Linked DNA regions of Homo sapiens. The protein of the gene in region 1 purifies or fractionates together with the protein of each later gene. This does not show direct contact. Each region holds a gene or a part of one and is shown on either strand. Other genes may lie near its edges. The genes, in order: GDE1, LRATD2, ATL3 and REEP5.

The links.
Region 2: the proteins of GDE1 (region 1) and LRATD2 purify together in Homo sapiens (affinity purification with mass spectrometry; 3 studies listed by BioGRID and IntAct, with this or other methods). This does not show direct contact.
Region 3: the proteins of GDE1 (region 1) and ATL3 purify together in Homo sapiens (affinity purification with mass spectrometry; 3 studies listed by BioGRID and IntAct, with this or other methods). This does not show direct contact.
Region 4: the proteins of GDE1 (region 1) and REEP5 purify together in Homo sapiens (affinity purification with mass spectrometry; 3 studies listed by BioGRID and IntAct, with this or other methods). This does not show direct contact.

Annotation. Positions count from the first base shown.
Region 1 is NC_000016.10:19,501,181-19,505,121, reverse strand, and holds the end of GDE1 (glycerophosphodiester phosphodiesterase 1), read left to right. Parts: intron 1-29; coding exon 30-241; intron 242-1,504; coding exon 1,505-1,652; 3' UTR 1,653-3,429; downstream 3,430-3,941. UniProt on the Homo sapiens protein: Hydrolyzes the phosphodiester bond of glycerophosphodiesters such as glycerophosphoinositol (GroPIns) and glycerophosphoethanolamine (GroPEth), to yield a glycerol phosphate and an alcohol.
Region 2 is NC_000008.11:126,555,446-126,562,744, reverse strand, and holds the start of LRATD2 (protein LRATD2), read left to right. Parts: upstream 1-4,266; 5' UTR 4,267-4,711; exon of another isoform or gene 4,712-5,259; 5' UTR 5,260-5,355; coding exon 5,356-6,288; 3' UTR 6,289-7,299.
Region 3 is NC_000011.10:63,661,375-63,668,409, forward strand, and holds part of ATL3 (atlastin-3), read right to left. Parts: intron 1-7,035. UniProt on the Homo sapiens protein: Atlastin-3 (ATL3) is a membrane-anchored GTPase that mediates the GTP-dependent fusion of endoplasmic reticulum (ER) membranes, maintaining the continuous ER network. It facilitates the formation of three-way junctions where ER tubules intersect.
Region 4 is NC_000005.10:112,898,204-112,905,238, reverse strand, and holds part of REEP5 (receptor expression-enhancing protein 5), read left to right. Parts: intron 1-2,720; coding exon 2,721-2,859; intron 2,860-6,867; exon of another isoform or gene 6,868-7,035. UniProt on the Homo sapiens protein: Plays an essential role in heart function and development by regulating the organization and function of the sarcoplasmic reticulum in cardiomyocytes.

The DNA.
Region 1 (3,941 bases):
TTATTTTACTTCCCCAAATTCCTTTGCAGATGAGACAAACAGATCGGGATGTAATAACAGCATTAACTCACAGACCTTGGAGCCTAAGCCATACAGGAGATGGGAAACCACGCTATGATACTTTCTGGAAACATTTTATATTTGTTATGATGGACATTTTGCTCGATTGGAGCATGCATAATATCTTGTGGTACCTGTGTGGAATTTCAGCTTTCCTCATGCAAAAGGATTTTGTATCCCCGTAAGTTGGAAGGTTTTTTATTTTACCCAGACAGACATCCTGAATGCTCTTATTTGAAAGGAAGGATTAACAGAGTAGACAACCTGAATTGGTTCTGACCTGCAAAGCTTACCATACCTCTAAATTGGATTACCAATTTCGCTTCTTAGGTGGGAAGAGTTCAGGCATATTTCACTGTTTTCAGACCGAGTCGATCACATATTTTCGGTTTTTTAGTGTATTTTGAAGAAAAAAAATGAACCTGTGACACTATGCTGAGCAAGGGATTTTATTTCTGTGACTGGTTTTTTTGAAAGCCAACACAGGATCCTGGGCAGAACCACAGTGAAGACATCCTGTGGGCACCAGCCTCCCCACTACCGTCTTATGTTATAGGCACTCCCCCACCTCTCCCCATAAAATTTCCATTTCCTAACCTGCTAGCGATCTCGGAATCATTTCTTTGGCAATTCTGTATCTGTATATTTCAGCTAATTAGAGTTGTAGGTCTAGTATTATTTCAGACATACATGATTCAGTTCAATAAATATTTGGTAAGTGCCTATACTATTGCAAGGTTCCATGTTGAGAAGCTGAAGATGCAGTGGGTAAAGAATCAAAGCCATGATCTCTGCCCTCGTGACGTTTATAGCCAAGTGGGAGAGTGAGAGATGCTAATCAAATAAAAATCCAATCAATATAAAGTTAAAACTAAGATACAGGCTATGTCAGAGAAAACTGTGCATGGGCTATAATCTAATCTGGTCTGGGTTGTCAGAAACAGCATCCCCAAGGAAGTGACAGTTAAGCTAAGATCTGAAGGGTGAGTGGGAATTGGGAGGAATCCAGATCAGAGAGAAAAATACATGTAATGTGCTCTGGCAGGAAGGAACATGGTTCTTTCCAGGAAGTGAAAGAAAATTAATATTCTTTCAATTAATTTAAAATTAATCAGCACAGAAAAGAAAGGGGGAATGTGGTGTGAGATGAAGCCAAGGAGACAGGTCGGGGCCAGGTCAGGCACACCTTCAGTGGCTGTGCCAAGGACATTTGGGGGTGGCGATCATTAGTGAGCTACTGAAATGTTTTAAGCTGGGACAGTGTAGAGGAGGTTCATGGCATCCTGGGTTTTGGAACAGTCCCTCTGATCACAGTGCAGAGGCCAGTTAGGAGGCATTCTCTGGGCACCATTGGTATGCAGTGAACACCATACTTAGTGGCCATTATGGATTCCTGAGACAGCTGCTTATTATTCTAACAGGATTGGCTTTCCTCTTTCCCCAGGGCCTACTTGAAGAAGTGGTCAGCTAAAGGAATCCAGGTTGTTGGTTGGACTGTTAATACCTTTGATGAAAAGAGTTACTACGAATCCCATCTTGGTTCCAGCTATATCACTGACAGCATGGTAGAAGACTGCGAACCTCACTTCTAGACTTTCACGGTGGGACGAAACGGGTTCAGAAACTGCCAGGGGCCTCATACAGGGATATCAAAATACCCTTTGTGCTAGCCCAGGCCCTGGGGAATCAGGTGACTCACACAAATGCAATAGTTGGTCACTGCATTTTTACCTGAACCAAAGCTAAACCCGGTGTTGCCACCATGCACCATGGCATGCCAGAGTTCAACACTGTTGCTCTTGAAAATCTGGGTCTGAAAAAACGCACAAGAGCCCCTGCCCTGCCCTAGCTGAGGCACACAGGGAGACCCAGTGAGGATAAGCACAGATTGAATTGTACAGTTTGCAGATGCAGATGTAAATGCATGGGACATGCATGATAACTCAGAGTTGACATTTTAAAACTTGCCACACTTATTTCAAATATTTGTACTCAGCTATGTTAACATGTACTGTAGACATCAAACTTGTGGCCATACTAATAAAATTATTAAAAGGAGCACTAAAGGAAAACTGTGTGCCAAGCATCATATCCTAAGGCATACGGAATTTGGGGAAGCCACCATGCAATCCAGTGAGGCTTCAGTGTACAGCAACCAAAATGGTAGGGAGGTCTTGAAGCCAATGAGGGATTTATAGCATCTTGAATAGAGAGCTGCAAACCACCAGGGGGCAGAGTTGCATTTTTCCAGGCTTTTTAGGAAGCTCTGCAACAGATGTGATCTGATCATAGGCAATTAGAACTGGAAGAAACTTCCAAAAATATCTAGGTTTGTCCTCATTTTACAAATGAGGAAACTAAACTCTGTGGAAGGGAAGGGGTTGCCTCAAAAGTCACAGCTTAGCTGGGCACAGTGGCTCATGCCGATAATCCCAGCAATTCAGAAAGCTGAGGCAGGAGGATTACTTGAGGCCAGACTGGGCAATATAGCAAGACCCCATCTCTAAAAAATTAGGCATGGTGGTGCATGCCTGTATTCCCAGCTACTCAGGAGGTTGAGGTGGGAGGATCACTTGAGCCCAGAAGTTCAAGGCTGCAATGAGCCATGATTACACCACGGCACTACAACCTTGGTGGCACAGTGAGAACCTGACTCTTAAAAAAAAAAAAAAAAAAAAAAAAAAAAAGATAACTAGAACTTCTAGAACATCTTGTTTACAGTTAGCCAGAAACTATACAAGTGGTTTAACATGCATTATCTTACTCAATCCATACAAAAGTCTTATGGAGGTGTTAGCACTCTTTCTACTGATGAAGAACTGAGGTACTTCATAAAACCACTTACCCAAGGTGTCTTGAGTCTGGTACAACTGGCATTCAAATCTAGGTCAGTCTGCCCCCAGAGCCACTACCCTTACCCCTCACTGAATCTGCCTTTATATTGTTGAGCCCATGACCCCAAACTGCTCTTTCCAATTTGAACTTCCAGGGATTTTATTGTGAACTTACATAGCAACATTAAAATGAAGTTGAATTGTTTTTAATGGCAACGCCGTCTGTCTCCTCTAGCTTACCGCTTCTCACCTTTCAACCCCATCTGTGGCCTTTGTCCAGGCCCACAGCTTAGCCATGGCTTCCCTCCTGCATCCCTGCCGTGGGTTGCTGGCCTCACACTTGCAGCAGCTGGACAGTGATTTTAGAAGGCCACCAGTCCCCATAGCTATGTGACAATGAGAAGCAAACTTTTTTGTGACAGATTGTATTGGCATAGGCATGATAGATGGGGATTGGTACGTTTTGAATCAGCATTTGCAAAAAAATTGTCTTGAATTTTAAAATAAACAACAAAGATTTGTTCATTGAGTGCAACAAATGTCTAAACTGCATGTACTTCCGTGCCATGTTATGACTAGAGTGAAAGGAGGAGGAAAAAGTGACCAAAGAAGATACATCAGGCCAGGCGTGATGGCTCATACCTGTAATCCCAGCACTTTGGGAGCTGAGGTGGGTGGATCACTTGAGGCCAGGAGTTTGAGACCAGCCTGGCCATGATGGGGAAACCCCATCTCTACTAAAAATACAAACATTAGTTGGGCATGGTGGCACATGCCTGTAATCCCAGCTATTCAGGAGGCTGAAGCAAGGAGAATTGCTTGAACCCAGGAGTCAGAGGTTGCAGTGAGCCAAGATTGTACCACTGCACTCCAGCCTAGGCCAGAGAGCAAGACTCTGTCTCAAAAAAAAAAAAAAAAAAAAAAAAAAGATACCTCTGTTCAACACTAGCTGTTCAACAGGCTGTTCAACACTAGCCTGGGCAACATAGTGAGACCCCATCTCTACAAAAAATTTACAAATAGGGGCTGAGATGGGAGGATCACTGG
Region 2 (7,299 bases), on another chromosome or scaffold:
TCCTCCGAAGAGGTGTGTGGGATGTGACACTCGGGTCACTGTTGGGGGGATGAAGCTGCCGTATGGCTGAGAATTCAAACCCAACTAATATTTCTTTATCGAACTGCTGCTCTTGGGGAAGGCATTTTCCCAGCCTGCTCTTTGCTTTCCTCCAGCCTCCATCTGCCTGGGATGCCTTTCCTCCCACAGCCCAGGCCTCTGTGGGACCTGCTTCCTTTCTTGCTCCTGCAGTCCATTTCCTGTAGGGCAGCTGCCTGGATGCCCTTAAACTCAAAGGCTCGCCCACCTCTCTACCTGCACCTCCTGTCATAGCTACATTCACTCACTGTACTCTGGTCACAACTGTAGTCTTTCCTTTTTCCTAATCACTTCCAGTCTTTTCCCCCTCTAACCTTTGCTCTTGGTCTTCCCTCTGGAGGTAATATCAAGGCTGGCTCCTCATCCTTCAAGTCTCTGCTCATTTCTATTTCCTCAGGAGCCCTTCCCTGACCATCTTAACCCAAGTAGGCCACCCCCATTACCCTCTCCTTACTGACAGCTATTCAATCCCATTTCCCTATTTTACCTTCTTCATAGCCCTGCTCTCTCTCTCTCAGATATTTCCATTGATTCATTTACTTATTTATTATTTGCCTCCTCTCATCAACATGTAAAAGCCATAAGAGCGGGGACGTTGCTTGCTACATCCACAACTGTATCCTTGGAGTCTGGTAAACCCAGACACCCAAATATTTGTTAAATATTGTAGAATCTGTTGGATTCTATTTAAAACAAAGAAGTTAAAAGCATGGGCCTGGCCGGGCACAGTGGCTCATGCCTCTAATCCCAGCACTTTGGGAAGCTGAAGTGGGCAGATCACCTGAAGTCAGGAGTTCAAAACCATCCTGGCCAACATGGCAAAACCCCATCTCTACTAAACTTATAAAAAAATTAGCCCAGTGTGGTGGCAGGCACCTGTAGTCCCAGCTACTCGGGAGGCTGAGGCACGAGAATCGCTTGAACTCGGGAGGTGGAGGTCGCAGTGAGCCAAGATCACGCCGTTGCACTCCAGCCTGGGTGACAGAGTGAGACTCCATCTCAAACAAACACACAAACAAACAAAACAAAAAGCATGGGCCTGGAAGTAAAGTGGGCTTGTGTGATCTTTCCACCTACCAGCTGGGAGAAGCCATGGCCTCTCTAACCTTTCTTCTCCTTTATAAAAGAATCAAGAGCTCACTCCATGGGAGTTATTAATTTTAGAGTTGTGTTTCCCCGATGAGCCCAAGACCCTGTTGGCAGGCACTTGGTCATTAATCTCTGTATCCACCATGCCTTGAAACATCACCTTACCGCCCCAGCATCCTCTATGTCTTATTACAGGACATGTCACAGTGTCCCAAAGAGTCTATTTATTTCTCTGTCTCCTCCAATATGGTGACTACCTGGGGACACGAACATCTAAGAAACCTAGCACAGTGCCCATTGTAGAATTGGATGCACAGTGATTAAGACTAGCAGGCACCCAGTATGTCTTCATGAAATGTATTTTGAACCAAGTCCTCTTTAGAAAAGACATGAATAAATATATTAATTAGAATATGAACTTTAATACATGAATTAGAGAATAATACCAGATAGTATATGATCAAGTGCTGAGTTACACATATTCAGGTAATAAAATGTGTAGTACAGGTATTGGATGGCAAAGGTGGCCAACAGAGAGCTTCCTGGACCAGGCAAGGGACCTAGGTACGTGAGGTGTGGGGGACAGGGACTGGATCCAACTGGAGAATATAGTTCACCCGCAAGGCAACTACCACTTCTCTCCAGCAATTTGTTGCCATCCTGGAATATGGGTCTGATTGTCTCATATCTTTATTTTATTTACAGACAGAGTCTCACTCTGTCACCCAGACTGGAGTGCAATGGCGTGATCTCGGCTCACTGCAACCTCTGCCTCCCGGGTTCAAGCAATTCTCCTGCTTCAGCCTCCTGAATAGCTGGAATTATAGGCGCACCCCACCACTCCCGGCTACTAATTTTGTATTTTTAATAGAGATGGGGTTTCACCATGTTGGCCAGGCTGGTCTCGAACTCCTGATCTCAAGTGATCCTGCCTTGGCCTCCCAAAGTGCTGAAATTACAGGCATGAGCCACCACGCCCAGCCAAGTCTCATATCTTTAGATTTTTCAAATGAAACTGGGAATATGAATTTTTTAATATCTCCCAAGTTTTCAAATTGTTGACAACAAGCTTAAATTTATTAAACAACTATTTGAAATGAGCAAAGCATGTCTGAGAGCCATGTTGTAATCTCTGACCAAATGTTCCAGGTGACAAGACGGATGTTGAACCCTCAACAGGCATTCATGGAAGAATCTACACTAGACGCCAGCTATCAAAAGGCAACATTTCTTCACTCACTCACTCACAGCCCCATAAAACCAGGAAGCAATTCTTGACCTGTGGCCAAATTTTCCCCTAAGGCATCCATCAAGCATTTATTGAGTACCCACTCAGTGCCAGGCATTCAGATATAAAATGGATCAGGGCTTGTTCCCTCTGAGGCTTTATAGTTGGTCAGTTCAAGATATGTTGTTGAGCCACTATTGTGCACCTGAGAACAGCTCATCAAGACAAAAGGAGACACACCTAGTCAGCTAGGCATTGCTTCCTCACCCACCAGATCTCTGACCTAGAGTGCTGGTAGCAAATTGTCCTACAACTGTGTCCTCTCAGTTCAATTCTCCCATTCCCAGCCATCCCAGTAGCACCTAGGAGCAAAGTGGCCTCCCAAATCAGGCAGTAGCAGAGGTCTCCCAATCTGATGAACATAGGATGACCAGCCATAATCTCTATAAGCCTAACTCTTGTCTATAATATGGTGATCATATGATGGCAACAAATATCACTCAGGTAACAGCAGCCCCCCACACCATTTGCTATCAAAAGGACTGGGGTGTGTTGGATTCATTCAGTCACATGCGCCTGAGGCCAGCCAGTCTGAAATTATTGAAACAGAATCGCACAGCACACAGTAGTCTCATGTTGATCTAACTTATACTTCAGACTTGCTGAAGGACTAATTTCTATCACAGCCCTGCCAATATTGATTGTTTGGACTCAAAATTACATAAGTAGAATGATTTTTATTTTTTTCTCCTAAACTAGAAAGGATCACAGTAGTGCTAGTATATTCCTGTTTCCACTGGCTGGTTATACATGCTGGAAAAAATTAGTCAAAAGAAAGCAACTGAAGACAGAATATAGGTCTTGAATCGCATTCTTAAGTCCCCTACGAATAAGTCTGGGTGCTTGCAGTAGTGCCTAAACTTGTTTATTGTAAACAGAGCTGTTAATCCTCCACCCTCACCGGACCCATTATTTTAAAAAAATAAACAACAACAACAACAAAAAAAACACTTTGGTAGCCTACATTTAGGTAAAAGAAACGAAACCAGTGGAGAGGTGGAAGTGTCCTTTTGTGGTGGAGGTTAGTAGGCATTACTGGTCTCCTGTCACTTCCCTAAGTCAACAGGAAGGAAATATATCCACTAGGGCCTCTGCTAATTTGTTTCTAATTTAAGGACAATTAGAATTAGGATGTAGGAATTAGGCAATTCCTACATCCCCTAACCCCCCACCCCCCCAAAAAAAAGCAGTCAGAGCTGCACGCTTCTCTCACTATCCAACGAACTGGTACCTCTCTGGAAATAACGGAGGTTATGAACTTTGTACTAACTTCCAGGGGTATCTAATAAACAGAGCGGTGGTCTTGGGACCCAGTCAGTGAATAAGTCTTCGTTCTGTTTTATACTGTTTCTTTTCTGCGATTTTCTTTTCTACCCCAAAGTTTCCCACTACTAACTCTGAAAACACCTCTAGGATGACGCACTCTTCGAGCTGTCCTGGTGAAGAATCCTTTCTTGTGACCTTTAGGGCAAGAAATATGTTCCAGGAAAGAAAAGAAACGACTGTTCCTCCTTCTCCAGGTACTCTGGGAAAAAACAGGTCAAAGGGAAAAGGCGCAAACACCAAACTCTCCTTCCCTTTCTCATTTCCACACTGGCAAGTTGTGTTTGCCTTCTAACTTGTCTCGGAAGGCAAGCAGAGCTCACAGCACCAGCCCCAGGCGGCGGGTGGATTATTTACAGGGGGATTTAAACCCGCTCCGGCGCGGGGGCGTGGCCGGGCGGAGTCCCGAGGCCCGAGTGGGCGGGGCGGGGGCGGGGCTCCCGGCCGCTCGGCGCAATGTGAAAAAGACCCGAGCTCGGGGAGTGAGCGCCTGTCTCTTTAAATGCCACGGGCTGCGCTCCCGCCCGGGAGCCCGGAGCCGGATCTACAATCCCGTCCCTCCAGCTCCGGTGCTTGTTGCTCGCCCGGCCCAAGCGGGAGCTGTTGCCGCCAGGCTGCGAGGCTGCCGTCCTCTCCTCCTCGCGCCCCACCTCCCCCGAGAGCTGGCTGAGGAGGGGCAGCAGCCCCAGCTGGCGGGAGGAAGCGCGGTGTGAACAGGGATTGCCCCCCGCCTTCAAGTATCGGGGCGCTACGCAGCCGCGGGGGAAAGACATGCCCCTAGTCTGCCCGCTGCGCTGCCCTCTGCCCAGCCTCGCTGCCGCCCGCGCCGGGAGAGGAGGGACTGCCGAGCCTACACCTTCAAACTCGCCCTAGAAGTCTCGGGGCGCGGCAGGGAGCCCTTCCCCAGGCCCCACGGCCTTCACCTCTCCGCGGGTGAGTTTGTGCAGGTAACCCGAGCCTGAGGGCGGGCGCGGGGGAAGGGCGGGCGAGCCGGGAGGAGGTAGCGCTGCAGGTGAGCCAGGTAGGGTGACTCACCTGTCCAGGTCGCGCTCTGAGATCCTCGCTTGTTCCTCTGGGGATGGATGCGTTGGTGGGGAGGAGGCGTCCCCGGGGCTAGTTAGGGCCCGAGGGTGGGAGGGGAAGTTAGCAGAGGAGGGGGGGGATTGGCGTAAAGTTTCTCTTTCCTTCCCTCTTCCTGCCCAAGCTTGGCAGGTAGGGCGCAGGCGGAAGCAGTAGAAGCTGCTGATGCAATGGGCTTTTGCCAGGGCCAGGCGAAGGGCTGGGGACAGGGAGAACAGGAGTTGCCCAGTCTCCTGTGACCGTGACCTTACAGGTGGAGAAACGAGGGAAAGCTCGCTACACCCGAGACTTCCCCCTAAAATGGCTCCAGGTGCTGAGCCCCCACCGATTCTTTTTCGGAACAAAACGCCCTTTTCACGGAGGGGCTCCTGCATGGCTTTCTTGCCTTCCTCTCCCAACAGGTAGCCTCAGCCCCTGTCCGGGGACCTGTGCAAATGACCCTGGAGTTGGTTTCGCTTTCTCCCCTTGCGGCGGTGTGAACGTGTGTCCGCAGCGTGATGGGCAACCAGGTGGAGAAATTGACCCACCTAAGTTACAAGGAAGTTCCCACGGCCGACCCGACTGGCGTGGACCGGGACGACGGGCCCCGCATTGGGGTCTCCTACATTTTCTCCAATGACGATGAGGACGTGGAGCCGCAGCCGCCGCCTCAGGGGCCAGATGGCGGCGGCTTGCCCGACGGTGGGGACGGGCCGCCGCCGCCCCAGCCGCAGCCCTACGATCCGCGGCTGCACGAGGTGGAATGCTCCGTGTTCTACCGGGACGAATGCATCTACCAGAAGAGCTTCGCGCCGGGCTCGGCGGCGCTGAGTACCTACACGCCCGAGAACCTGCTCAACAAGTGCAAGCCGGGCGATCTGGTGGAGTTCGTGTCGCAGGCTCAGTACCCGCACTGGGCCGTATATGTGGGTAACTTCCAGGTGGTGCACCTGCACCGGCTGGAGGTGATTAACAGCTTCCTGACTGACGCCAGCCAGGGCCGTCGCGGCCGCGTGGTCAACGATCTGTACCGCTACAAGCCGCTAAGCTCCAGCGCCGTGGTGCGCAACGCGCTGGCGCACGTGGGTGCCAAGGAGCGCGAGCTGAGCTGGCGCAACTCGGAGAGTTTCGCCGCCTGGTGCCGCTACGGCAAGCGCGAGTTCAAGATCGGCGGCGAGCTGCGCATCGGCAAGCAGCCCTACCGGCTGCAGATTCAGCTGTCGGCGCAGCGCAGCCACACGCTCGAGTTCCAGAGTCTAGAGGACCTGATCATGGAGAAGCGACGCAACGACCAGATCGGGCGCGCGGCCGTGCTGCAGGAGCTCGCCACGCACCTGCACCCGGCGGAGCCGGAGGAGGGCGACAGCAACGTGGCGCGGACTACGCCGCCTCCCGGGCGCCCCCCTGCGCCCAGCTCCGAGGAGGAGGACGGAGAGGCAGTGGCACACTGATGGGCGAGCTGAGCGCAGAGCTGCGAAGGGGAACTGTTTGCAGTAGCAGCCGCTGCTCCCTTTCTCCCTCTCTTCCTCCCTCTTTTGCCACTGTCTGGGCCCCATCTGGGATTCCTGGGCCCTTTGGAAAAGAGTTGGTGAAATGCGCAGCCGGCTGTGGACGGGGGAGGAGGAAGGGGACAGAGGGAGCAGGTAGGAAACACTTTAGTTGGGGGTGGGGGGCGTCTCCCTCTGGCCCCCTGTCTGTCTTCCTCTCCGCGGTGGAGCAAACTGTGGACTTGCCTGGCACTTAAACCTTGGTAGATCTGGGTTTATAATCGGCCATTCTTAAGCACGTGGGGTTGGGGGAAAGTTCGGAGTACCCATTCCTGCCGTTGCTTCCTATCCTGGGCTTGGAAGAATCCTGGTAGAAAGGCCAGAGTGGGTTTGTGGAGTCGCCACTGCGGGACCAGCACGAAAGCTGCTTGTCTGCTTTGGCGGAGCTGAGCTGTGTATGGGATCCAGGAGGCTGGGGTGATTTATTTTATGGGATTCCTGGAGCGCAGGGCTGGTGAATCCATGACAAGGTCCGGGAGCAGCAGACCAAAACCACAGCAGCCTCCTATTAAGTGTAACAAATAGTTAAGCAAACTCGGGCTACAAACAAAGACTTTGCTACCTCCCTCCTCCACAACCCCCAAGTAATTAGCCTTCTGGAGCTGGCTCTTAGCTGAGGCTCCTGCTACCTCCTGCTCCACCCGCCCCTTCCTAGGTTACAAGTAAATCATTGTCAAGGGCCAGCCAGGGGAAGGTTTCAATTAAGGTTCTGTTCTGCTGCCTTTGTTTCTCCCCTGCTGTTGTAGGCACTTACAGCTGCGTTGTTATGAAAGGAGGGAATAGCCCTTTGTGTCTTTGATCTAATTAAACCTGCTTGGCTGTGTTTATCCGCAGGGCAGGTCACAGATAGGGTTGGCTGTGCCACTCCATAAAGTATCTATTGTGGAAGCAGCCAAAAAGGGCTGCTGTGGCAGG
Region 3 (7,035 bases), on another chromosome or scaffold:
GTTCAAAATTAAGCACTAACTATATTATACTTTCCTTACCAGAGTTTCCCTACCAAAGCACAAAGATAACTAATTAATTTGAAATTCAGGCCAGGCACAGCATCCACGCCTGTAATCCTAGCACTTAGAGAAGCTGAGATGGCAGGATTGCTTGAGGCCAGGAGTTCAAGACCAACTTGGCCAATATAGCGAGAGACTGTCTTAAAGAGAAGAGAAGAGAAGAGAAGGCAAGGGGCCGGGCGTGCTGGCTCACCTGCGCAATCCCAGCACTTTGGGAGGCCGAGGCGGGCAGATCACCTGAGGTTGTGAGTTCCAGACCAGCCTGACCAACATGGAGAAACCCCATCTCTACTAAAAATACAAAATTAGCCCGGTGTGGTGGCACGTGCTTGTAATCCCAGCTACTTAGGAGGCTGAGGCAGGAGAATCGCTTGAACCCAGTAGGTGGAGGTTGTGGTGAGCTGAGATTGCACCACTGCACTCCAGCCTGGGCAAAAGAGTGACACTCCGTCTCAAAAAAAAAAAGTGAAAAGAAAGCAAGAAGGAAATTCATTCAGGCTAGACATGGTGGCTCACACCTGTAATCCCAGCACTTTGGGGGCCAAGGCAGGCGTGTCACCTGAGGTCAGGAGTTCGAGACCACCCTGGTCCAACATGGTGAAACTCCATCTCTACTAAAAATACAAAAATTAGCCGGGCGTGGTGGTGGGTGCCTGTAATCCCAGCTACTCCAGAGGCTGAGGCAGGAGAATTACTTGAACCTGCACGGTGGAGGCTGCAGTGAGCCAAGACCGTGCCACTGCACTCCAGCCTAGATTTCAGAGCAAGACTCTATCTCAAAAAAAAAAAAAAAAAGAAAGAAAGAAAGAAATTCAGAGCCACTTAGTAGCTGTGGACTTATGGGAAGTTCACAAAAAACTACCAGTGGGGCGTAAGGAATGAATAAAGAACTATTTCCCTAAGAGTATGTGTCACTGGTATTAAAGATGTTTTTAGGTAGTTAAAAGGACATAGTAATTTTAATAATTATGCATGTTAATGTATACTTTAAAACAACAAATCTGTATTTTGATAAATTATTCTTTAGAAGGATGCTAAGTTTAAGAAGTCTGTTTATTTATTTAAGACAAGGTCTGGCTCTATAACTCAGGCTGGAGTGCAATGGCACAATCTTGCCTCACTGCAACCTCTGCCTCTCCGGCCCAAGTCATCCTCCCACCTCAGCCTCCCAAGTAGCTGGGACTACAGGCATTCATCACCACACCCAGCTAATTTTTGTATTTTTGGAGAGACAGTGTTTCACCATGTTGCCCAGGCCCGTCTTGAACTCCTGAGCTCAAATGATCCACTCGTCTCAACCTCCCAAAGTGTTGGGATTACAGCGACACCGTACCCAGCCAAGAAGTCAATTTAAAGTCGACTTAAGGAGACATATTAAGTAAAGCTTAGTACTGACAGGCAGACATGGCCAAAATCACAGCGACACAGTACCCAGCCAAGAAGTCCATTTAAAGTAGACTTAAGGAGACATAGTAAGTAAAGCTTAGTACTGACAGGCAGACATGGCCAAAATCACAAAGATGGTTCCAAAATGACTTTGTCTAACCAGCACTGAAGGCTACACGATCATGGCAGGCAAAGCAGACAAAACAGTTTGACTGCAAGACTCTCTCCCCTTCAAGCTACTGGAATTGCTGCTCACTTTTTACATTTATAGTATCAGATAGCAACAGAAGGGTTCTTCGCACTTTTTTTTTTTTTGGAGACAGTATTTTGCTCTGGCACACAGGCTGGAATGCAGTGGTGCAATCCTAGCTTACTGCAGCCTCAAACTCCTGGGTTCAAGCAATCCTCCCACCTCAGCCACCAGAGTAGCTGGCAGTACAGGTGTGTGCCACCATGCCTGGCTAATTTTTTAATTTTTTTGTAGAGATGGGGGTCTCATTATGTGGCCCACATTAGTCTCAAACTCCTGGGCTCTAGTGATCCTCTCACCTCAGCCTCCCAGAATGCTGGGATGATAGGCCACTGTGAATGTGGATGATAGCCACTGTGGCTGGCTTCTTCCTACTTTTTAAGTTTTTGCAGACTATTGGAAAACAAGTTATAAATATAGGTTAAATGTCATGCTATCATTGTAATCAATGTATACTAATACTTTTCTTTCCTGTTATTGCCTGGATTAAAAAGGAAACACTTCTGTGAATAATCTCTTAGGGTTCTTATTGCCCCAGCAGCAGGTAAATCCAAGATCCAAAGACCTTCAGTCTTTCATACAAAGAACTAATGAGAAGAATTTATTCAGACTTCAGGGATAAGCCACAGTGTTAAGTACTGTGTAGCACTCAAAGAAATACAAAACAAAGTCTTGATTGTGGCAGAGATGTCTGGTTGTTCCCCCAATATTAATTTCTCCCTCCTGCTATATAATAGATTTTTAGCTGGGCATACAACTGCCCAGAAGAAACACATTTCCAACCCAAATTTATAGCTAGGATATGACCAGGTGACTAAATTCTGAACAATGGGAAGTGACTGGAAATAACAGACACAACTTCCAGATCAGGCATTTTCCCCCTGCTTGCTGGCTAGATGTAAAAGTGGGAGTGAATCATCTTGGGCCAGGCATATGAGGGCAACACCCCAGGAATGCTGGAGAAACAAGAGAGGTCAGATTTCGTATAGCAGAACTGCCATATTGGTTCACTTCTGTGTGAAAGAAAAATAAATGTCTACCTTGCTTAAATCACTTATTTGGAGGCTCCATCAAATACAGCCAAGCCTAGCAGCCAACACAACAGTCTTCCAGGACTTTACAATTAAGTTCATCATACCAGATCTTTTTGTTTTATCTATTTCACTATTAAAAGTTTACTGAGCGAGGCCAGCCTCGGTGGCCCATGCCTGTAATCCCAGCACCTTGGGAGGCCGAGGCAGGCAGGTCACTTGAGGTCAGGAGTTCGAGACCACCCTGGCCAACATGGTGAAACCCCATCTCTACCAAAAATATAAAAAATTAGCTGGGCGTGGTGGTAGGCACCCGTAATCCCAGCTACTCGGGAGACTGAAGCAGGAGAATCGCTTGAACCCGGGAGGCAGAGGTTGCTGTGAGCCAACATTGCGCCACTGCACTCTAGCCTGGGCAACAGAGCGAAACTCTGTCTTTTAAAAAAAAGCGTACTGAGCAATGTGAATGTAATGAGCAATATCAATGTAATGACACACAGCACATACAATAAGCTATTGTTTTTTTGTTTTTTTTTTTTGAGACGGAGTCTCGCTCTGTTGCCCAGGCTGGAGTGCAGTGGCGCGATCTTGGCTCAGCGCAACCTCCGCCTCCCGGGTTCAAGCGACTCCCGAGCAGCTGGGACCACAGGCATGCACCTCCATGCCCGGCTAATTTTTGTATTTTTAGTAGATAGAAGGTTTCACCATATTGGCCAGGCTGGTCTCGAACTCCTAACCCTGTGATCCACCTGCCTCAGCCTCCCAAAGTGCTGGGATTACAGGCGTGAGCCACCGCACCCGGCCAATAAACTATTGTAAAATGAATGAATGACATGTACCATAATGTGGTTGAAGGCTACAACCCAAAGGATCCAAGTGGCATTGTCAGAGCAGTAGACATGGAAGATAAAGTTACGTGGTTACAAGATGGGGTAATCCAATGATAAGAATGTATACAGTTGAGACTGGGCATGGGGGCTCATGCCTGTCAATCCCAACACTGGAAGGCCAAGGTGGGTGGATCACCTGAAGTCAGGAGTTCAAGACCACCCTGACCAACATGGAGAAACTCTGTCTCTACTAAAAATACAAAATTAGCTGGGCGTGGTGGCACATGCCTGTAATCCCAGCTACTCGGGAGGCTGAGGCAGGAGAATCGCTTGAACCCCGGGAGGCGGAGGTTGCGGTGAGCTGAGATTAAGCCATTGCACTCCAGCCTGGGTGACAGAGTGAGACTCCATCTCAAAAAAAAAAAAAAAAAAGAAGAATGTATACAGTTGTGTACAGTGAACTGCACTTCAAGAGAAGCTGAAGACTACTGAGGACAGCTATGGGGGAAAAGTCCTTACTCATCTCTTCCTCTCCCTGTAGCACGGTACCCAAGAATAAAGGAAGGGAACCAGGCTCTGTTTAGTTGGAAGAGCTGGGGTGATTCTGCATTTCTCTTCACACCAGTAATATAAGCATGATTATCAACACCCACCAGATTAAAAAAGATCTTGTTGGCCAGGCATGGGAGGTCTCGCCTATAATCCTAGCACTTTTGGGAGGTTGAGGCAGGCAGATCACCTGAGATCAGGAGTTCGAGACCAGCCTGGGCAACACGGCGAAACCCCATCTCTACTAAAAATATGAAAATTAACCAGGCTTGGTGGTAACGCGCCTGTAATCCCAGCTACTTGGTATCACTTGAACCTGGGAGGCAGAGGTTGCAGTAAGTCAACCACTGCACTACAATCAGGACAACAGAGCAAGACCCTGTCTCAAAAAAAAAAAAAGATGTTGTTCACTGACAGTGATCCTTGGGTTTGGGCTTATGTAAGGGAAGAATTATTTTGAGCTGTACACACCAATAATGCAAGTTAAATGGAGCTGCTTATATATTACACCTTTTTTAAGACTGGGTCTCACTCTGTTGCACAGGCTAGAGGTGCGGTGGTGCAATCATGGTTCACTGCAGCCTCAACCTACCGGGCTCAGGCAATCCTCCCACCTCAGCCTCCCAGTATCATCTCACTGCAACCTCTGCCTCCTGGGTTCAAGCAATTCTCCTGCCTCAGCCTCCTAAGTAGCTGGGATTACAGGTACCCACCACCACGCCTAATTTTTGTATTTTTAGTAGAGGTGGCGTTTCACCACCTTGGCCAGGCTGGTCTCGAACTCCTGACCTCAGGTGATCCACCCGCCTCAGCCTCCCCAAGTACTGGGATTACAGGCGTGAGCCACCGCGCCCGGCCTACCCTCTATTTGGATGATACAACTTCACAGATCTCTAACTTGCATTTAGTCTAAATGTACAACTGCCTAAGGGACAGATTCACCTGCTTACTCTCAGAAGTAACCTGTGGAAATATACAAATTTAGGACTCAAAACACAAGTTCCTGTTCCAGCCCTGCCACTAACAACCTGTGTGATCCTGGGCATGTCTAGTTTTCAGTTTCATCACTAAAATGGGTCAAGTGCTAACTGGGTGTGGTGGCTCATGCATGTAATCCCAGCACTTTGGGAGGCCGAGGGGGGTGGATCGCACACCGTGCGATCAAGTGATCTATCCACCTCAGACTCTCAAAGTGCTGGGATTACAGGCATGAGCCACCGTGCCCGGTCCACTTGTCAGGAATCTTAAACTCTGGAGATCTAGTCTCCGGGGAGGGTACTAAAAATATCTGTAAGTGGCAACTTTACATGCCTTGTCCCTTTAGAGAAGCAATTATTTTCCAAGGTCTAATTCTGCATACTGCAACAACAGTTAATGCTGTATTACATTACTTACATGAATATGGATAACGTGATGTTTTTGCACAGACACAAAGCTACAGCTGGACCACTGTTACATCTATCATTCATATGTATTTATGTGAATTTACAACATATGTTTAAAATTCCAGAAATAAACAATTCGTAAGTCTTAAGATTGCAACGCAGTTCTTAGTACCATGATGAAATCTTGTGCTATCCTGCCTGGGACATGAATCATTCCCTTTTCCAGAGTATCCACACTGTATATGCTACCATGCCCATTAGTTATTTAGTAGCCTTCTCACTGATCAACGTAGTGTATACAGGGCTCAGTGCTATCAGCAGTTTCAGGCATCCACTGGGGGCCTTACAATATATGCCCCTCAGATAATGGGGACTACTTCATTGCTGTAAATAGCTCATGATAATATTCTATCACTCATCAGTTCAAGTATGTAGAAAATGTTGAAAATCTTTGTATAATTAGAAAGCATTTTTTTTTTTTTGAGACAGATTCTTGCTCTGTCGCCCAGGCTGGTGAGCAGTGGCGTCATTCCTGCTCACTGCAACCTCCACCTCCCAGGTTCAAGTGATTCTCCCACCTCAGCCTCCCAAGAGTTTAGGATTCCTGAGAAGTGGGCCGGGTGCAATGGCTCACGCCTGTAATCCCACCACTTTGGGAGGCCAAGGCGGATGGATCATTTGCAGCCAAGAGTTTGAGACCAGCCTGACCGATATAGTGGAACCCTGACTCTACTGAAAATTCAAAAAAATTGGCCAGGCGTGGTGGTGCATGACTGCAGTCCCAGCTACTCGGGAGGCTGAAGCAGGAGAATCACTTGAACTTGGGAGATGGAGGCTGCAGTGAGCTGAGATCGCGCCATTGCACTCCAGCCTGGGTGACAGAGCGAGACTCTGTATCAAAAAAAAAAAAAAAAAATGACAGTGTAGACTAGGGTTTCTCAACCTCAGCACTACTGACATATTGACATTGGAGCTGCACAACTGTTGTGGGGGGCTATCCTACGCACTACAGGCTATTGAGCAGCATCCCTGGCCTCTACCCACTAGATACCAGTAACACTCCCCACAACAGGTTCTAACACCCAAAAAACGTCTCCAGTCATTGCTAAATGCTCCAGGGGCAGGAAGAGGCAATATTACCATAGGTTAAGAACCACTGAGTAGAGTCAGCCTTGGTGTTTATCCTTACCATTCAAAGAGTTCTGAATACAAAGTAACCAACCAGTCACAGAAACACTTTGCTGAGTAGATTCATGTATGACTCAGGGTAAAGTTATGACCTGAGTTTTCCAGTCTCCTTATAAAATATCATATTCTCCAAAGGGCAAGAGCAACACACCCAAAACAGAGGCATACCATTTTCATGCCTTGTTCTTGCTGGCAGTCTTTAAGGTTTCTAACTGACAAAGCCAGAGAAAACATCATCACAGGCAAGAGTAAGTATACTAAGACCTTAGCCAACTCTAGAACTGCTGGGTGTGGTTCCTTCTGGTGGTGGAGGGGTGGGTGCTTTTATATACCGTTTTGTCTTAAGGCAGTGATTG
Region 4 (7,035 bases), on another chromosome or scaffold:
TTTTTCTTCTCTCACCATGACTACATGGGGCACTTCACTTTTTTGAACCTCACGTTCCTGAGTGAGCTAGACCATCTCTTCCCTTTTTTCTTGTTTTGGGTAGTTTGTGATTGTTATGACACATAAAGACATTTTTTAAATTGAACATTGTGCTATTTTAAATTAAAACAATTAAATGCTTCAATAATATGAGAAGATCTATTAAAAAATCTCTTTAGCTTAATAGACTCATTGGCCTTTTCCTGGCTTCTTTCATATGCCTTGGTTTTCTGCAAAGTTGTGATCAGTGTATGTATTCAATTTGGAGTTCTTTTATTTCTACTTTTCAATGTTACTATATAGTGTTCTAGTATATTAACATGGGGACTTTAGAATTCATATTGTAGATATGAATTAAAAAAGAATTTTTTTTTCCTAGAAGAGCTGAACTGTTAGGCTTCCTGTTTTTCAATCTGTGGAACTTGACTAACATTTAAAAAATAATGAAATAGAATGGAATTTAAAATATCAGAATGGTTTCAGGAAATATCTATTTAAGTTTATATTTTTATGTGAAGATGTCTGTTTACTGGATCATGATGTAAAATGTATGCTTACCGAGGGTTGTGGCCAAAAGAATTTAAAAGCCACTGGATTAACAATGACAGTCCCATCACATTTTGAGGTTTTTACGTCATATTCTAGAAAAGACTGTTTAATTCCCAGGTGTGTCCTGAGAGTTGCTTCTTTTGGAAGTACATAGTTGTGAGCTATTGCGTTCACAAAACTAAGACCTTGAGTGAAATGTAATTACGTATCTCCTCTGCCCAGAATGAATGTACAGGAAACAAATTTTTATTATACTAATAATTAAATAAATCCAATTAAATATGGATAAGCCATACTATACCAAATGAAACACAGCGGGAGAAGAAATCTTACACATAAAGGATATACTGTGTTCTTTGGTTAACATGCTTGTCTACACTTTTCCTTTGGCCTTCTATTACATTCGCCAGCTTCTATCTGAAGGAAGCTAAAAAAATACAGACTTTGTGCATACATTACAAGCCATTTTTTAATAATCAGCTCTCTTAAATTCATTTTATATGATTCTTGTACTTTGAAATATTTGGGGCTGGGTGTGGGAGCCACCAGACTGCACTTTGGGAGGCCAAGGCAGGAGGATTGCTTGAGGCCAGGAGTTCGAGACCAGCCTGGGCAACACAGTGAGACCTTGTCTCTACTAAAAATTTAGCAAGTAGCTAGGTGTGGTGGTGTGTACCTGTAGTACCAGCTACTTGGGAGGCTGAAGTGAAGGGAATTACATAAGCCCAGAAGTTTGAGGTTGCAGTGAGCTATTATTGTGCAACTGCACTCCAGCCTGTGCAGAGACCCTGTCTCAAAAAAATAAAAATTTTGCCTAGTCTTGAAGTTCAAAGCAACATTCACCTTATTACTTGTTCCTCTCTCTGTCTTCCTCATTAGTAATCATCTCATTGAGCTACAATTTTTCCCCTTTTGGTTATTTTCTAAAACTCACACACATAGCTGCTTCTAATTAACTGTACAAGGGCTTTCTTAGTGAGTGACTGAGCATGATTTAGCAGCCTGACTGTCTCTTTGGGGAGCTGATGTTATGGAGTAGCCAATGTATTTGCTTTTTGAAAATTTTTTATTTCAATAGGTTTTTGGGTAACAGGTGGCGTTTGGTTACATGGATAAGTTTTTAGTGGCAATTTCTGAGATTTCGGTGCACCCATCAACTGAGCAGGGTACACTGTACCCAATGTGTAGTCTTTTATCCCTCACTACCCCCAGCCCTTTCCCCAAAGTCCCCATAGTCCATTGTATCTTATGCCTTTGCATCCTCATAGCTTAGCTCCCTGTCAATGTATTTTCAGTAGTTAACCTGTTTCATAGGCTAAACAAGATTCAGAGTTCTTTTATTTTACTGTTTCAGTCCAGCTCAGTTACGATAAATATCTAGATCTGTTAGGATAAGAAATTGTGGAGCTTCAGGTTTAGAATAATGAGATTCCTAGGACTGAAGGAAATTTCTGTGATTTAGAAAATTATTTTAAATGTATTTCCATCCATTTGCAGAATGAATTTTGTTTAAGCAATAGTTAGGGTTGGGAAAGTCCTGTTATTAACTGAGGAGAGGAGGAAAGTCCATAGCCTGTGGATCAGTTAAAGACATTCTGAACTAAATAGACACCATGAGGTTTGTTTTCACCCGTTTACTATAAAATATGCTGTGGATTTTGGGCAGTACCTAACCTATGTTCCAAATGTTGCTTTATGGGAAATTCTTATTCACCCATGATATATCTCAATTATTAAAAGTACATAAGAACCTGGTTATCACGAGAGAATTCTTCCTGATATATCCCTCGTGGCAGGACCCAGCTTGGGAGTGGAAATTGCTCTAGCTCCCAGTCACTAGTGGTATATTCTAGGACTTGTGGGGAGGCTTTGGCAGGGTGGAGATCCAGGGCAGTAACAGCTGGTGCTGGTTTCTCTGGTGACCAGGAGACTAGAAACAAGTGGTTATAATGGCTTGTCCCGATATCCACATTGCTTCCAGTCTTTAAGCTGTACTCTTGCATCTAGTGACACAGTGCCTACATGTGCCTAAGTTTCTCAGTGGTATCAGAGGACAGGTTATGAAAGTGTATTTGAAAATCTTTCATTGATATCTTACCAAATGATATACTTTCTTTTGTACTGCCTTTCAGAATTAAAGCTATAGAGAGTCCCAACAAAGAAGATGATACCCAGTGGCTGACCTACTGGGTAGTGTATGGTGTGTTCAGCATTGCTGAATTCTTCTCTGATATCTTCCTGTCATGGTTCCCCTTCTACTACATGCTGAAGGTATGTTGGTCTTGCTACCACTAAAACTCCATCTCAGTACCTGTATAGAAGAAGTAGGAATAAATGCTTGAATGTTGTGCATCTGTGGCTCTGTCTCAGATTATAAACAAGAAGACAGGCCTGGGCAACAGAGCGAGACTCTGTCTCAAAAAAAACAAAAACAAAAAAATGCTCAAGCAAGCCACTTGCCTCAGCCTCCCGAGTAGCTGGGACCATAGGCGCACACCACTGCACCTGGCTACTCTTTTAAACAATTTTATCTAAAGAAATTTAGATATAGGAAATTAAATATAGGAAGCTCCATCACTCCAACCACCATCATAAATGGTAGTATCTTGAGTTTTAGTTCTGGTTAATTATGGATATATAATTCTTTTTGTCTTTGGTCTTAGCCTTTTTTTTTTTTTTTCTTTTTTTGAGATGGAGTCTTGCTCCGTCGCCCAGGCTAGAGTGCAGTGGCATGATCTTGGCTCACTGCAACCTCCACCCCCCAGGTTCAAGCAATTCTCCTGCCTCAGCCTCCTGAGTAGCAGGGATTACAGGCGCCCACCACCATGCTTGGCTAATTTTTGTATTTTTAGTAGAGACAGGGTTGGTTTTTTTAAAAATCTATTTATTTGTACTTCTTCTGGGAGATTTCTCAATCTGACCTCCTTTTTTTTTTTTCTGAGATGGACTCTTGGTCTGTTGCCCAGGCTAGAGTGCCATGGTACAATCTCCGCTCACTGCAACCTCCGCATCCTGGGTTCAAGTGATTGTCCTGCCTCAGCCTCCCGAGTAGCTGGGATTACAGGCATGTGCCACCACGCCTGGTCAATTTTTGTATTTTTTTTGGTAGAGAAAGAGTTTCACCATGTTGGCCAGGGTGCTCTCGAACTCCTGACCTTAAGCAATCCACCCACCTCGGCCTCCCAAAGTGCTGGGATTACAGGCGTGAGCCACCGTGCCCGGACTCAATCTGACCATCTAATTTTCAACTGTACTCCATGATTACATTATAACCATTCTGTTATTCCTGCTATATACCGTGTTCTTCATTTCAACTATTATATTGTTCACACCTAATGTTTTTGCTTGGCTCTCTTCTTCTTGTCCTTGTTTCATATTGCTAATATTTTCTCATTTCTTTTAGTATGGTTACCGCTCCCCAGTTTAAAATTCTTGGTCAGCAGTTCTAATATTGTTGCTCCTGACCAAAACTTGTAGTTGATTGTGTTGTTTTTCTTTTGAAATGTACTCTTGGCCAGGCGTGGTGGCTCATGCCTGCAATTCTAGCACTTTGGGAGGCCGAGGCGGGCAGATGGCCTGAGCTCAGGAGTTCGAGACCAGCCTGGGCAACACGGTGAAACCCTGTCTCTACTAAAATACAAACGAAATTAGCTGGGTGTGGCAGAGTGCACCTGTAGTCCCAGCTACTCAGGAGGTGAGGCAGGAGAACTGCTTGAATCTGGGATGCAGAGGTTGCAGTGAACCGAGATCACACTACTGCACTCCAGCCTAGGCAACAGAGCCAGACTCCATCTCTAAAAAAAAAAAAAGAAATATATTCTTAAAATATCTTTTTATTTTAGCCTACAAACTGCTTTTCATCCATGAGTATCAGCTATCCCATCAGGCACTGGAATGGAGGGGGCCCCAGTCCATGCTAGTACTAGTAAGTTCTGGGTAGGGGGTGGATGAGTCCTAGGAGTGGGGGGCCCCAGGCACACAGGAACCATAGTTAACCACTCTTCACCTACAGAAGAGCTCCTCAGGTCAAAGCTTCACTGTACAGTCCCCTTCTACCCCAGCAAAGCAGCATCAAAAGGAAGTGATCCTGGGTTATAGTTCACAGCTCTAGGGGTTGGAGCAGGAGGGGTAGGGAAGTAACTGCCTTTAGTTAGTGTCCACCTGTTTTCCTGAGTGATTTGCAAAGACAGGACTTTTATGCCAAAACCTCTGTTTTAGAAAAAAGTAGAGGACAATATTTTTTAACTTTGAGGTATAGAAGCAAGACAAAATACAAAAGTTTCAAAGAAAAAGATTTGATAAATTCAACTAAAAATTTCTAAAAATTAAATTTCTATATGACAGTGGGCAGCATAAACAAAGTTAAAATAATGACAGACTAGGAAGATAGATTTACAACATTTACACCAAATAAGGAATATCCAGAATACATAACAATTTCCATAAGTAAAAAGAAAAAGAAAATGGGAAAAGGTTCTAAGTTAAGTATTTCACGGAAGAGAAAAAATATGAATGGCTAGTAAACAGCTCACCAGTGATGTGGGAAGTGTGAGTTAAAATAGTGAAATCCCATATTTTGTTCATTAAACTGGCAGATATTTTAAAGATTGAAAATATCTGGTATTGGTGAATGTATAGGGAAATGGACATGTAATGGTACAGGCTGAACATCTGAAATTGGAAATCCTAAATGCTTTAAAACCCCAAACTTTTTGAGTGCCCACATAATGATCAAAGGAAATGCTCATTGGAGCATTTAGATTTTAGAGTTTCTGATTTGGTATGCTCAGTTGGTATAATGTACATATTCCAAAATCTGAATAAATGTGAAACCCGAAACACTTTTAGTCCCAAGCATTTCACATAAGGGATACTTAACAGCCTAGTGGTATAAACTTGAATAACCTTTTTAAGGGACCTTTTAACCATTTCTTGTTGAATTGAAAAATGATACTCTTAACAATTCTAAGGAAATAGTCACTGTGCATTAAAGAGCTGCACAAAGATATTCATGGCAGCATTTTTTGTTGTCAACTGTATATAATATGAACTGCATAATGTAAACATTATAAACAGAAATGTCCATCAGCAGGTAAATGGTTCATTCAATTAATAGTATATCCATACAGTTAAATGGAATGAAATAGATCCATATGTACAGACCCAGAAATTTTTGCATAATTTAGTAATTATGAAAAGTTATACAGGACAGTTGTGCTAGCTTTTGCCTGTAATCCCAGCATACTCGGAGGCCAAGGCAGAAGGACTGCTTGAGGCCAGGAGTTTGACACCATCCTGGGCAACATGGTGAGACCCTGTCTCCACACACACAAATTTAAAAATTAACCAGGCTCCCAGATCACAGCATGTTGACCAAAAAAAAAAAAACCGAAAACCAAAAAACAAATGCCAGGCATGGTGGTGCATGCCTGTGGTCCCATCTGCTCAGGAGGCTGAGGTGGGAGGATGGTTTGAGCCCAGGAGTTCAAGGCTACAATAAGCAATGATCACCCAACTGCACTCTAGCCTGGGTGACAGAGTGAGACCCTGTCTCGAAAAAGAAAAAAAGTAATAGAACATTAAATACAGTATCACACCATTTATGGTTAAAAAAGAAAAAAGACAAGACACTATATGAAGTGAGTGTCTTTTAAAGTTTAAAAAATTAAATGAAAACATGCTCAGTATAGATTCTTTTATATTTTTGAATGACTTCACCACAGAATGCCTTGTAAGGCAATTAAGAATTTTCCTTTCAAAACTGATGGAAGAAAATAAAAATTGGTCTGTGGAAAGAGTTGATTTCAAAGATTGGATTTTTTTGTTTTTATTATTCAAAGTCATTTAACATTTATAAAAATATTCTTACAATCTTTAATTTGGACATGACATAATTTAAACTTCAGATAATTTTAAAGCCCTTAATAAGATCCATCTAATCGTAGGGACCTCACAGTAGTCTTTAGTGGAAAGAAATTGGCTTTTGCTTTGGGCCCACTTGCTTGTGGCAGTGAACACTATCTTGTCAGCAGAACTACTTGCAGTAGTTCTGACCTCAGACTTCCAAATGTGAGCAAGCTTGACTTCTAGCCTACTCCTAATCACCTCTGCTAATGGAGTTCACAGAGAGGTAGAGAGAAGATCCAAAATAAATGGTAGTCACTGAATCATTTATATTTGGTTTTGAAGTTCATTTAAAATATTGCTTTGTAGCAGACTTTCTTCCCTAATGGTAAAATGAATGTGCATCCATTAGTAGTCTCCAGCTGCATGGCATCATAGTGTTCATGAAAGTGAATTTATTGCATACATTCCAAATAGATAACATACTTGAAAGGATTAAACATTCATGATGCTGTCAATCAAAATACTTTCTTCCTACATTAGTGGCATACTCTGAATGACCTAGTGAACAGACTGAGAAGAGGCCTCTGAATTGCAGAGTCT